2 linked regions of the Homo sapiens genome follow. The protein of the gene in region 1 purifies or fractionates together with the protein of each later gene. This does not show direct contact. Each region holds a gene or a part of one and is shown on either strand. Other genes may lie near its edges.

What was found. The genes of interacting proteins can lie anywhere in the genome.
Region 2: the proteins of OR7C1 (region 1) and YJU2 purify together in Homo sapiens (affinity purification with mass spectrometry; 3 studies listed by BioGRID and IntAct, with this or other methods). This does not show direct contact.

The regions. Positions count from the first base shown.
Region 1 is NC_000019.10:14,832,169-14,839,469, forward strand, and holds the start of OR7C1 (olfactory receptor 7C1), read right to left. Parts: upstream 3,018-7,301; 5' UTR 2,906-3,017; intron 1,925-2,905; exon of another isoform or gene 1,809-1,924; intron 1,144-1,808; exon of another isoform or gene 983-1,143; intron 1-982. UniProt on the Homo sapiens protein: Odorant receptor.
Region 2 is NC_000019.10:4,257,047-4,264,083, forward strand, and holds part of YJU2 (splicing factor YJU2), read left to right. Parts: intron 1-1,195; coding exon 1,196-1,377; intron 1,378-4,947; coding exon 4,948-5,068; intron 5,069-7,037.

The DNA.
Region 1 (7,301 bases):
CAAAGTGCTGGAATTATAGGCATGAGTCACCTCGCTTGGCCTGACAATTCTATTATTTTACACTAAGAAATATTCTTTATTTGATTTACACCTTATGACATTGCATCATGCACCTTTATTTAATTCTACTGTATTTTCACCATTATAGCACAAGGTCAAAATGAGCAGGGATGTTACCATGGATGTTCACTTATGTATTTTTTTCCCTCCTTCCCTCCCTCCCTCCCTTCCTTCCTTCTCTCTCTCTTTCTTTCTTTTTTCTTTTCTTTTTTTTTTTTAATGGAGCCTTGCTCTGTCACCAGGCTGGAGTGCAGTGGCGCGATCTCGGCTGACTGGCAACCTCCGCCTCCTGGGTTCAAGCGATTCTCCTGCCTCAACCTCCCAAGTAGCTGGGATTACAGTCATGAGCCACAACACCTGGCTAATTTTTGTATTTTTAATAGAGTCGGGGTTTCACCATGTTGGCCAGGATGGTCTCGATCTCCTGACCCCGTGATCCACCCACCTCGGCCTCCCAAAGTGTTGGGATTACAGGCCTGAGCCACAGTGCCTGGCTACCTTCATATTTTCATAAAAAGATGTGACGATGTATGCATTATTAAAAAAAGAATTATAAAATTAGAAAGAATGGCAGGAGAATAAAACCAGGTTAAATATAATCAACTGTAGTGAATAAAATTGTTGAAGTATTGAAAATTAACTGACATGCTATAATAATAATTTAATCATATCAACATAAATTAATAAATTGGCAAAAATCTAGATATAAAAGAATATGGCATACACTGTTCATAAAAAACTCTTGCACAGAGCAGATGCTCAGTTATTATTTGCTGAATGAATCAGGACTTTGTTCTCAGTATACATGGGCATTTAATATACAGCAAGCTTGTATTTCAATTTAGTTAGAAAGGATTGGATATTTAAATAAATGCTGTCATAAACAGCTATTTGTCTGGAATAAATAAAATTGGTCACCTACCTCACACATCTTACACAAAGTCAGAGGAATTAAAAACTTCAATATCGGCCAGGTACGGTGGCTCATGCCTGTAATCCCAGCAGTTTGGAAGGTCCAGGTGGGTGGATCACTTGAGGTCGGGAGTTCAAGACCAGCCTGGGCAATATGGCGAAACGCCATCTCTACCAAAAATACAAAAATTAGATGGGTATGGTGGCACTTGCCTGCAGTCCAAGCTACTCAGGAGGCTGAGGTGGGAGAATCGCTTGGATCCAGGAAGCGAAGGTTGCAGTGAGCCAAGATCGCACCACTGCATTCCATCCTGGTTGACAGGGCGAGACTCCGTCTCAAAAAAAAAGTAAACAATGCCTTTTCCATGAAAACAGGGAAACTACATATGAAATCTGTGGGTGGGCAAATCACCTTAACTAAGGCAATAATTGCAGAAGTAAGATGATAGGTATATATTTAACTAAAGAATATTTTAAACTTTTTATGGCTAATAAATTTCCCCAAAAGTCAACTGAAAAAGAATCATTGAAAAAAATAATTTTAAACGCTGGTAACTGTATAAAAATGGGCATATAGTAAACATAAGGCAATCAAGATCTTGATCAAATATATGAATATTTGCTCAAAGTCAGTAATATTTTAAGAAAACAGTAAGAAATCTCACGTCCATCAGCCTGAGCGGGGATGGAGTGGGGAACTTTCTCAGCTGTCATAGATTTGTGTTGGAATTTTTAAACAGATGGCAAACGGGTACTCTAATTTTGGTGACAGAAATAAGTGTCATAATGTCTTGTGGAAACAATCTCCAGACAGATAAAATATTAAAAACACATACAGGCTGGGCGTGGTGGCACACGTCTGCAATCCTAGCACTTTGGGAGGCTGAGGCAAGTAAATTGCTTGAGCCCAGGAGTTCGAGACCAGCCTGGACAACGTGGTGAAACTCCATCTCTACAAAAGAAATACAAAAATTAGCCTAGCATGGTGGTGCACACCAGTAGTTCCAGCTACTTGGGAGACTGAGGTGGGAGGATCACCGGAGCCAAGGAGGTTGAGGCAGCAGTGAGCTGAGATCATGCTACTGCATTCCAGTAGTAGCATGGACAGAGGCTTGCACGACAGAGTGAGGCTCTGTCTCAAAGAAAAAACAAACAAACAACAAAACTCCAAAAACCAGGAAGCCAGCAGATATTCCTCGCCACAGTGTTTCTCAATCTCAGCACTATTGATATTCTGGGCTAGATCACTCTCTTTGATAAAGTCTATCCTATACACTGTGAGTTGTTTAGAAGCATCAAATCACAGGCCTAAACAACACACAAATATATTCAGCCACGCAAGTGAGGAAATAAATGCAAGTACAGCTCATTAGTACATAGTCTCTCACCTATTAAATATTTTGTATTATCTGAATACCTAGCGTAAGAGAAAATCCTGCAAAATATACGCATTATGAACTGCTGTTGCAAAATGGTATTTGCAAGCAATCCGTTCATCTGGATTTTTCTCACGGGCATAGAATCAAACTGAAATATGCTCCATTTTAAAAGTAAAAAGGAAATGTCTTTACATGACTGTATATCCCTCCACAGCCAATACACGATTTCTCTACTCCCCTTAATTACAAAGATGTATGTTGTACTTTTACAAAAATCATTTTACACCTCCTATTCCTTCTAATTGGGCTTCTGTGACCTTCACTAAATGTCAATAGTCGTCACCCTTGCATTGCCTAGTTCAGTGTTCACTTTTCTTTTTTTGCATCATAAAACGAGACATTACTTAGTTAATTAATCAACCAAGCAAATAACCGCAGCAATATCTTGGCTCTGGGCTAGGCTGGACTGGCTCTCAGGTGATCTCAGGTAAATATTCTCTGCATCTATTCCATCTATTGTTTTCCTGCAGTTCCCACTGGGCTCTCCAACTCACCAGGAGGGGATCTCTCCGAGGAAGAGTTCCTTGTGTAAGTGCAAATTCCTCACTGGATGATTGATGGTGGAGACTGAAGCTCTGCTCAGCAGACTAGGCAGCAGGAAAGAGTCAAGCATCTGTCTCTGAGCTAGACTTAGGACTTCAAAAGAAACAATGATATTCCATTCAACCCAGGGGTGCCTGAGGGACAACAGCAGATGAAATATTTATAGCTTCCCACATCTGCTCAATAGGCACATTTCTTCTTGTTATTTGAAACCCTGAGTACATTATGTCCCTGTGGGACATTGTTTTGCACAGAAAGAAAAAAAATCCTGCAGATTCTCTGTTCCCAAGAGACTGGATGAACCAGTCTTTCTTACTCTTTCAACATGAACTCTCCTTTCTTCCAGAAGTCTAACTTTGTAACAACTGTCCCAATCCTGAGACAAAGTTTTCTTCACATCTAAGACTGAGAAACCCATCTTGCCTACTCCCCTTAAATCTCCAAAGCATCGACTTATTGTGGGAATACAGCCTCTGATACCATAAGAAAATTTCTCTTTTTTTTTTGAGACGGAGTCTCACTGTGTCACCCAGGCTGGAGTGCAGTGGTGTGATCTCAGCTCACTGCAACCTCCGCCTCCTGGGTTCAAGTGATTCTTCTGCCTCAGCCTCCCGAGTAGCTGGAACTACAGGTGCTCACCCCCATGCCCAGCTAATTTTTATATTTTTAGTAGAGAAGGGGTTTTGTCATGTTGGCCAGGCTGGTCTCGAACTCCTGACCTCAGGTCATCCACCCGCCTTGGCCTCCCAAAGTGCTGGGATTACAGGCGTGAGCCACTGTGCCTGGCCCAACATCTGAAAATTTCCATCTCATTCTTCAACTAGAGGGAGTACTGTGTTCCTTTGATATAAATCATGGCTTGGCTGTACTCCTTGGCTTCATGATGTTTTCACCAAAACAATTTGTAATTTAATGCTTGTCAGACAAATTAAGAACTGTCTTTTAGTTCTTCATTGATAAAATGTGTACCAATTACAAGAGATATATTTAGACCCTTTTATGCACATTGTCCTGAGAATGGCACCTTATAAGGATTATTTTATCTAATGTTTATAAATGTTTATTTTATGTGGTCGGTACTGTCATGAGCATCATTCTACGTATGCAGTAATGGGGCTCAGAAAGATTCAGTGATCTGCTCAACATTATAAACCAAGAAAGGGATGAATGGTTGAAACTCCTTCATGATGTTTTCAGTTCTCATGCTTGAGGCCAGTAGTTTAAAAACAGGAATGAGGCTGCATGTGGTGGCTCACACTTGTAATCCCAGCACTTTGGGAGGCTAAGGCAGGCAGATAACCTGAGGCCGGAGTTCGAGACCAGCCTGGCCAACACGGTGAGACCCCGTCTCTACTAAAAATGTAAAAATTACCTGGGCATGGTGGCATACGCCTGTAGTCCCAGCTACTCAGGAGGCTGAGGCAGGAGAATCACTTGAACCCGGGAGGCAGAGGTTGCAGTGAGCTGACATTACTCAAGCCTGGGTGACAGAGCAAAACTCCATCTCAAAAAAACAAAAACAAAGAAACAAAAAGCAGGGATGATTTTGCCACCAAAGGACACTTGAAAATATCTGAGAAAACTTTAGTTGTCACAACTAGGAAGATGTTACTGGCACCTGGGGGTTGAGGTTGAGAATGCTGTTCAAGATCCAACAATGCAAATGATACCCCCACCACAAATGATAATCCAGCACAAATGTTAACATGGAGGAAGCTGCAAACACTATTCTAGACCAGAACATCTCCAGCTTCAAAGTTTATATGAATTGCTTCTGGATCTTGTTCAAATGTGGATTCTAATTTATCAGGTCTAGGATGGGGTCCAGAGATTCTACATGTGTATTAGTCCGTTTTCACGCTGCTGATAAAGACATACCCAAGACTTGGTAATTTATAAAGGAAAGAGGTTTAATGGACTCTGGACTCACAGTTCCACATGGCTGGGGAGGCCTCACAATCATGGTGGAAGGCAAAAGGCATGTCTTACATGGCAGCAGGCAAAGCGAGAATAAGAATCAAGTGAAAAGGGAAACCCCTTATAAAACCATCAGCTCTCATGAGACTTATTTAGTACCATGAGAAAAGTATGGGGAAAACTGCCCCCACGATTCGGTTAGCTCCCACTAGGTGCCTCCTGATATAGGAGTTAAGAAGGAATTACTTAGGCAGATAGCAAGGGCATGAGAGTCCTCAGTAAGGCTTTTCTCTTTTAATGAAAAGCAGCCTCAAATCATTTTCTAACAAAGAGCAGCCTGTAAAGTTGAGCTGCAGACATAGATAAGCAAGCTGGGAGTTTGCATGGGTGAATGCTGGCAGAAACTAAGGACTAGACGTTTTCAAGATGGTGGCTCCATCTTCCCTTCTCTGCCAGCCACGTGCACTGTAAGGAGCAGACAAGATGGTGTCATGGCACTGGCCAGGTAAAAACCCCATCTGCATAATAAACAATTGGGGTGGGATGGCCAGCCTCTTTGCAGGCTATGTAAATGACACACTTGGTCCAACCAATCCCCTGGGCCCTATGTAAATCAGACCCCACCTCCTCAAGCCCCTCTATAAAACCAACCGAATCCCATGGGCAACAGGGAGATCTGTTTGGAACCCGCCTCCATCTACATAAGGGAGCTTTTTTCTTGTTTCTTTCATGTATTAAACTTTCCACTATTAAATCCACACCTCGTGCATCTGCGTCTTCATTTTCCTTAGAGCAGGACAATGAACCTTGAGTATTTCCCCAGACAAACGATGCCACTTCACCATTAGCCAAATACATCTCTGTTCATTATAAATTGCCCAGTCTCAGGCATTCTGCTATAGTAGCAGAAAACAAACTCACATTTAGCTTCTGCATATACAAGTTTACATGTGTCTCTTGAGTAAATCCCTCATGATAGGAAATGAAACTTTTAGAACTTTCATTTCTTATCTATAAGTTCTGGAAATTTCATCGATCCTATGAAGTTATTGTGAAAAGTAAGCAATATTTTAATGCTTGGAAAGTTACTGGAACAGAATAATTGTTCGATCAATAGCAGCTATTGTTATTGTCTCAGTTTTGCATTTACTTAGCTCACTGTGACACCAGAAATGTCTCTTGCGAGAGGATGTGAGTCTAGTGTTACCCTGTTCCTGTTCCTGGAATACAGCTAGTTGTGATCTTGAAGGGAGACCTCATCCCAGGGACTCAAGGAGGGGTCAGAATGTGGGGAATCCACCATTCCATGCTTTGTTATATTCAAGGATGTAGCCTCTGACCCTATTCTTTTTGAGACTGAGTTTTCCTCTGTTGCCCAGGCTGGAGTGCAGTGGCACAATCTCGGTTCACTGCAACCTCCACCTCCTAGGTTCAAGCAATTCTCTTGCCTCCGCCTCCCAAATAGCTGGGATTACAGGCTTGTGCCACCACGCCCGGCTAATTTTTTGTATTTTTAGTAGAGACGGGGTTTCACTATGTTGGCCAGGCTGGTCTCGAACTCCTGATCTCAGGTGATCCGCCTGCCTTGGCCTCCCAAAGTGCTGGGATTATAAGCGTGAGCCACCGCACCTGGGCCTGCCTCTGACCCTCTAATGCTGACTCCAAATAACCACAGCAAGAATTTTTAGACTCTTTCAATCCACTTTACTTGTTCTGCTCTTGGGAATATTTGCAAAGCTGCTATTTCTTGTTGCATCAAATTATTTCTATAAATTTTCTCATCCTTTTTGTTCCACCTCCACAGCATGTAATTCACAAATGTTTGCTGCCAACAGAAGTATGAAGTTCTTGCGTGTCTGTTTCTTTCTAGGATAATTTTTTTTTTTACAATTATTTATTAACTCCTCTATTCTCTGTAGGAGGACTGTAAATCACCACTATGGACTCTGGGTCTTAAGGGTGCCTCAATTGTAAGGAGAACATAGCTCTTCAATAGTTGACACTGAACTTGGACATGTGACTTCAGCTAAATGTGAATAGTCCTGAAATGTCCAATGCCTGAGAAGAAGCTGTAAGAGATTCCATCACTTGGCTAGGCACGGTGGCTCACGCCTGTAGTCCCAACACTTTGGGAGGCTGAGGTGGGTGGATCATGAGGTCAGGAGATCGAGACTACCCTGGCTAACATGGTGAAACCTCATCTGTACTAAAAATACAAAAAAAATTAGCCAGGCGTGGTGGCGGGTGCCTGTCATCCCAGCTACTCTGGACGCCGAGGCAGGAGAAAGGCGTGAACCCAGGAGGCGGAGCTTGCAGTGAGCCGCGATTGCACCACTGCACTCCAGCCTGGGTGACACAGCAAGATTCCATCTCAAAAAAAAAAAAGAGATTCCATCACTTTTCTTGAGCTTCTTCTCTCAAATTGTCCTT
Region 2 (7,037 bases), about 11 Mb from region 1:
ATTTTTCCAAAGGGTAAATACAACAAGGTCACAGCACTGGGAAGCAGCCAGGCAGGATTCACTCCCAACCTGCCTGGCTCCAAAGCCACTTCTCAGGGACCCGTGGCCACCAGACTCGCCTCCCTCAGCCTCAGTTTCCGTTTCTGTAAAATGGGGGTTGTGAGGATTAAATGAGATGGCATATGGAAACCTCTTAGCCCAGGGCCCGGTGTACAGTAGGTGCTCAGGTTGTCTTTTACAATTTTTCCTTAATATTATTATTTTTGAGATAGAGTCTCGCTCTGTCACCCAAGCTGGAATGCATTGGCACGATCTGAGCTCAGTCAACCTCTGCCTCCTGGGTTCAAGTGATTCTCCTGCCTCAGCCTCCCAAGTAGCTGGGATTACAGGTGTGTGCCACCACGCCTGGATAATTTTTGTATTTTTATTATTTATTTATTTTTTTGAGATGGAGTCTCACTCTGTCACCCAGGTTGGAGTCCAGTGGTGCAATCTTGGTTCACTGCAACCTCTGCCTCCCGGGTTCAAGCAATTCTCCTGCCTCAGCCTCCCAAGTAGCTGGGATTACAGGCACATGCCACTACGCCCAGCTACTTTTTGTATTTTTAGTAGAGATGGGGTTTCGTCATGTTGGCCAGGCTGGTCTTGAACTCCTGACCTCAAGTGATCTGTCTGCCTCGGCCTCCCAAAGTGCTGGGATTACAGGCGTGACCCATAACACCCAGCCTGTATTTTTAGTAGAGACAGGGTTTCACCATGTTGGCCAGGCTGGTCTCGAACTCCTGATCTCAGGTGATCCGCCCGCTCCGGCCTCCCAAAATGCTGGGATTACAGACGTGAGCCACTGTGCCTGGCCAAATTTTTCCTTATTATTCTTACTGAAAGATGGCACCAGGCCAGAAATCCAGGCCACCTGGGTCCAGAGCCAGCCTCTTTCCACCCCACCCTGCCCCAGGGCTCAGATCCCGGCTCCACCACTGCTCAGCCCCATGTGGTCACTTTCCCTCCCCAGACCTGAGTGTTCTCACCTGTGAAATGGACACAGCGCTGGGCATGGGCAGGGGGTTCCCTGAGCAGGATGGAAACGTGGGGGTAGGGGTTCCTCCCGTGGCCCGCAGTGGCCCCCGAGGCCAGACAGGGTTTGCCCCGTGGTGCGATCCCCATGCACTCAGCCCCGCCGCCCCGCGCCCGCCAGGTGCTGGAGAACCGGACCAAGGACTCCAAGCTGGAGATGGAGGTGCTGGAGAACCTCCAGGAGCTGAAAGACCTGAACCAGCGGCAGGCGCACGTGGACTTCGAGGCTATGCTGAGGCAGCACCGCCTGTCGGAGGAGGAGCGGCGGAGGCAGCAGCAGGAGGAGGACGAGCAGGAGACCGCGTGAGTCAGGGCCGGCCCAACCCAGCCCCACCTCGCAGCCTCTGCCCCGGCAGGCGCTGCCTCTGCCCCAGACCCTTTCCCCGCTCTCTGGAGTGTCGCCTTTGCAAGGACCCCTTTCCCACCGCCCATCTCACTTTCTCCCTTGTGGCGTCTCTCGAGGGGGTCCCAGGCCACTGCCGGGCACGGTGACTTAGCACGTGGTCGCCCGCATGGCTGCGGTTTGTCACAGCGAGAGGACACAGCAGATTCAGCAAAGGGGAAAGGCATGTGTGGTGTGTCGGGGGCCAGGCCTTCCAGATCCTCTCCTGGTGGAGCTTCGCAGGACGCGCCTCATCCCCTAGCACCAGCCTGGAGGACTCGAGAAAGGCGCCATCACTAGGGAAGCTCCTAGAGACCCAGCGTGGGGTTCCTATGGGGCCTGGTCCCACAGCCCCCGCTGCCTCACCCATGCCGGGATTCCAGACTCCAGAGGAAAGCAGGGGTCACGCATAAACCATGGTGTTTGCAGGAACAGCTGAAGCCCCAGAGCCCGTCCCATCCATGAGGGTGGGAGGCCCCCAGCACAGGCTCCCGGACACCCACCAAGGGACGCCCTCACCAGCCGCCTTCTGAGGACACAGCCTCAGGCCTCCTGGGTGAACACTTTTCTTTTTTTTTTTTTTTTTTTTTTTTTTTTTGAGACGGAGTCTCCCTCTGCTGCCCAGGCTGGAGGGCAGTGGCGCCATCTCGCTCACTGCAAGCTCCGCCTCCCGGGTTCATGCCATTCTGCCTCAGCCTCCCGAGTAGCTGGGATTAGAGGCATCCGCCACCAAGCCCGGCTAATTTTTTGTAATTTTTAGTAGAGATGGGGTTTCACCGTGTTAGCCAGGATGGTCTCGATCTCCTGACCTCGTGATCCGCCCGCCTCGGCCTCCCAAAGTGCTGGGATTGCAGGCGTGAGCCACCGCGCCCGGACGACGCTTTTCTTTTTCTTTGAGACGGGGTTTTGCTCTGCCGCCCAGGCTGGAGTGCAGTAGTGCAGTCATAGCTCACTGTAGCCTCCATCTCCCGGGCTCAAGCGTTCCTCCTGCCTCAGCCTTCTGGGTAGCTGGGACCACAGGGACACATCACCATGCCCAGCTAATTGTTTTTATTTCTGTAGAGACAGGACCTCGCTATGTTGGACAGGCTGGTTTTGAACTCCTGGCCTCAAGCGATCCTCCCACCTTAGTCTCCTGAAGTGCTGGATGACACGTGTGAGCCCCTGTGGTTGGCTGGTGAATGCCTTTGACGCCGACCACCTCTGAGCCCGCGTGCTGATCCCCTCCTTTCCTGGTGCCTCATCTCCCCTCCCTCCTTTAGAATCTGAGCTGTAAGGACAGGGACGTGGTGGCCTCTCCTGTGTCCCCAGGGCTTCCAGCAGGTAGGTTCTGGTAGGTTCCACGTCAGTGCCTGATGGGTGTGCAGAGCAGCGATACCGTGCAGAACAGTGTTGGGAGCCTGCGTTCATCCTGCACCTTCCGGGTGCCGGGCGTGGCTGTAACCTCACTACCCACACAGCCCTGGGGGTCAGTGTGATCTTCATCATGGAGGGGACTGAGGTCCAGGGAGGTCCAGGCATGAGCCCCACCAAGGTTACCCTCCAGGCTCCATCCAGACAGGCTGGTTCCGGCATCCAGGCACTTAACCACACCACTGCCCTCGGTGGACACGGAAAAGTTAATGTAAAAAAGTAGAAGGGGCCGGGCGCAGGGTCTCCTGCCTGCCATCCTGCACTGTGGGAGGCTGAGGCGGGCGGATCACCTGAGGTCAGCAGTTCGAGACCAGCCTGGCCAACATGGCGAAACCCCATCTGTACTAAAAATACAAAAACAAATTAGCTGGGCGTGGTGGCAGATGCCTGTAATTCCAGCTGCTCCAGAGGCTGAGACAGGAGAATTGCCTGAACCCGGGAGGCAGAGGTTATAGTGAGCCGAGATGGTGCCACTGAACTCCAGCCTGGGCGACAGAGCAAGATTCCTCCTAAAAAAAATGAAAATTAAAAAGTAGACTAGGTGCGGTCGGTGGCTCACGCCCGTAATCCCAGCACTTTGGGAGGCTGAAGTGGGCGTATCACCTGAGGTCAGGAGTTCGAGACCAGCCTGGCCAAGATGGTGAAACCCCGTCTCTACTAAAACTACAGAAATTAGCTGGACATGGTGGTATGTGCCTGTAGTCCTAGCTAACATTTTTAATTTTTTTAGAGACGGGGTCTCGCTATGTTGCCCAGGCTGGTCTCTAACCCCTGGCTCAAGCGATCCTCCCGTCTCAGCGTCCCAAAGAGCTGGGATGACAGGCATGAGCCACTGCATCTGGCCCCTTTAATCTGTTTTATGTTTAAATAGAGGAAGTGGTAACCACTGGGTTAAGGAAGTCCCAATGGGTGCTCTGCCCTCACGGAGCTCACTGTGTGGGGAGGGAGAGGGACAAGGAGACCAATACCCAGGACAACATCCATCTGGGTGAGAGAGAAGCCAGGATGCGTGAGCTTGAATTATGAGGATGAGCTTCTCAGAGGAAGAGCGTCTTGCATTGGGTATTGAAGGTCGAGTAGGAGTTCACCAAGCGAGTGCTTGGCAAAGGGGTCATCCCAGGTAAGGGGATGTAGGCCCCTGATTTTTAAAATCCTTTTTGCAGAGATGCGGTCTTGCTGTGTTGCCCAGGCTGGTCTCATGCTCCTGGCCTTAAGCATTTCTCCTGCCTTGGCCTCTAAAGGCACAGGGATTACAGACATCAGCCACCATGTCTGGCCCCAAGACATTTTTCTAAAAGACATTTTCTTTGAAGCTATATCCCCTGATTAGAGTTCTCACACTGTGGTTCTCACATAAACCACTCCCAGAATTAGAGACCGGCCTGGCCAAGATGGCGAAACCCCGCCTCTACTAAAAATACAAAAATTAGCTGGACACGGTGGTGCGTGCCTGTAGTCCTAGCTGCTCGGTAGGCTGAGGCTGGAGAATCGCTTGAACCCAGGAGGCGGAGGTTGCAGTGAGCCAAGATCACGCCACTGCACTCCAGCCTGGACAACAAAGACTCCATCTCAAAAAAGAAAAAAAAAATACAAAAATTAGCCGGGTGTGGTGGCAGGCACCTGTAATCCCAGGTACTTGGGAAGCTGAGGCAGGAGAATCGCTTCAACCTGGGAGGTGGGGGTTGCAGTGAGCCAAGATTGCGCCACTGCACTCCAGCCTGGGCAACAGAGCGAGACTCTGTCTCAAAAATAAAATGAAATAAAATTTAATAAGGCATAGGAACACGCCTGTGGACCCAGCTACTCAGGAAGCTGAGTGGGGAGGATCGCTTGAGCCCAGGAGGTTGAGGTTGCAGTGAGCTGTGATTGTGCCACTTCACCCTCCCTGAGTGACAGAGTGAGACCTTGTCTCTTAAAAAAAAAAAGTAATCTGTGCTCCCCCTACTCCCTCCCACCCCTGCTCACTGAGGGCAGGAAGAGGTCTCCAGGCACCCAGGCCCCTCGCCACCCCAGCAGGTACATCCCAGGCACTGTTCCCCAAACAGAGCACGTCCAAGTTCCCATCTTCCATCCCACAGGGCCCTGTTGGAGGAAGCCAGAAAGCGAAGACTGCTGGAGGACTCCGACTCAGAGGATGAGGCTGCTCCCTCGCCCCTGCAGCCAGCCCTTCGGCCCAACCCCACCGCCATCCTGGATGAGGTAAGTGGGGTGCCTGAGTCCTGGGGGCTCCCAGGTGAACTAGGGACAACTGAAGCCAGGGGTCAGCTTGACTTTTTCTTTTGTTTTTTGTTTTTGTTTTTTGAGACGGAGTCTCGCTCTGTCGCCTAGGCTGGAGTGCAGTGGCACGATCTTGGCTCACTGCAACCTCTGCCTCCCAGGTTCAAGCGATTCTCCTGCCTCAGCCTCCCGAGTAGCTGGGACTACAGGCACGCGCCACCAAGCCCAGCTAATTTTTTGTATTTTTAGTAGAGATGGGGTTTCACCATGTTGGGAAGGATGGTCTCAATCTCTTCACCTCGTGATCCGCCCGCCTAGGCCTCCCAAAGTGCTGGGATTACAGGCGTGAGCCACCATGCCCGACCAGAACTTGACTTTTTCTTAAAAGGCCAGTCTGCACCCTAACTCCTCCACCCTGTGGCTGTAGCCCAAAACACCCATGATCAGGTGTAAATAAGTGGGTGTTGCCTGGTGCCAATAAATCTTTATTTATAGGCGGGGTGCAGTGGCTCATGCCTGTAATCCCAGCATTTTGGGAGGCCAAGGCAGGAGGATCGCTTGAGGCCGGGAGTTTGAGACCAGCCTGGGCAACAAAGTGAGACCCCTTCTTTACAAAATTACAAAAATTAGTCATGGGTGGTGGTGCATGTCTGTGGTCCCAGCTGTTTGAGAGACTGAGGCAGGAGGACCGCTTGAGCCCAGAAGGTCAAGGCTGCAGTGAGCTGCATCAGTATGACCGAACTCCAGCCTGAGCAAGAGTGAGACCCTGTCTAAAATAAACAAATAAAAATTAAGGCTGAGTGCAGTGGCTCACGCTTGTAATCCCAGCTACTCAGAAGGCTGAGGCAGGAGAATCGCTTGAACCCGGGAGGCGGAGGTTGCAGCGAGCCGAGATCGTGCCACTGCACCCCAGCCTGGGTGACAGAATGAGACTCTGTCTCAAAAAAAAAAAAAAAAAAACTTAATTTACTAAAACTGGTGGCAGGCCTATGGGTCTGTAATTCGCCAACCCCTGTTTAAGCTGCCGAAAGAAGAGAATGTAAAGAAAGAACATAGAAATTTATTTCTCAGTCATAACAGCCCTGGGCTGACAGTCTAGGACTTCGGGCAGCTCTGCTCCTTGGAACCATTCAGGGACTCAGCCTCCTTCCTTCTGGAGCACGGCTTCCTGCGCTGTGGCCACAGCTGGCTCAGAGCACCTTCAGGGTCCGGCTGTGGGAAGGCAAAAAGTGTGTGGAGGACCACGCAGCCTCAGATGCGGCCCACCTCAGTTCTTCTCTCATGCCAGAGGCCACAGCATAGTCACAAGGCCCCATCTGGTGGCGAAGGAAACTGTGAGATGCATCCTCCAGCTGGTCCGTGCCTGGCTGTGCTGCCAACTAGAACGAAGGGAGGCCGGGCACCGTGGCTCAAAGTGCTGTAATCCCAGCACTTTGGGAGGCCGAGGCAGGCGGATCATCTGAGGTCAGGAGTTCGAGACCAGCCTGGCCAACATGGAGAAACCCTGTCTCTACTAAAAATACAAAAATTAGCTGGACATGGCGGTGCCTGCCTGTAATCCCAGTTACTCGGGAGGCTGAGGCAGGAGAATCACTTGAACCTGGGAGGCAGAGGTTGCAGTGAGCTGAGATTGTGCCATTGCCCTCCAGCCTGGGCAACAGAGTGAGACTCTATCTCAAAAAAAAAAAAAAAAAAAAGGAGGAAGGAGTTTTGGTGGATGACCAGCATTTTCCACCACAGCTGACTCATCCAAGGTGGCCTCAGCCACTCTGGTTTGTTCATTGAAGAAGGTGGTAAAAGTAGGGGCTCATAAACCAATAACACAGACACACAGAAACGATTGTTCTCGGCCGGGCGCGGTGGCTCACACCTGTAATCCCAGCACTTTGGGAGGCCAAGGCGGGTGGATCACGAGGTCAGGAGATCGAGATCATCCTATCTAACACGGTGA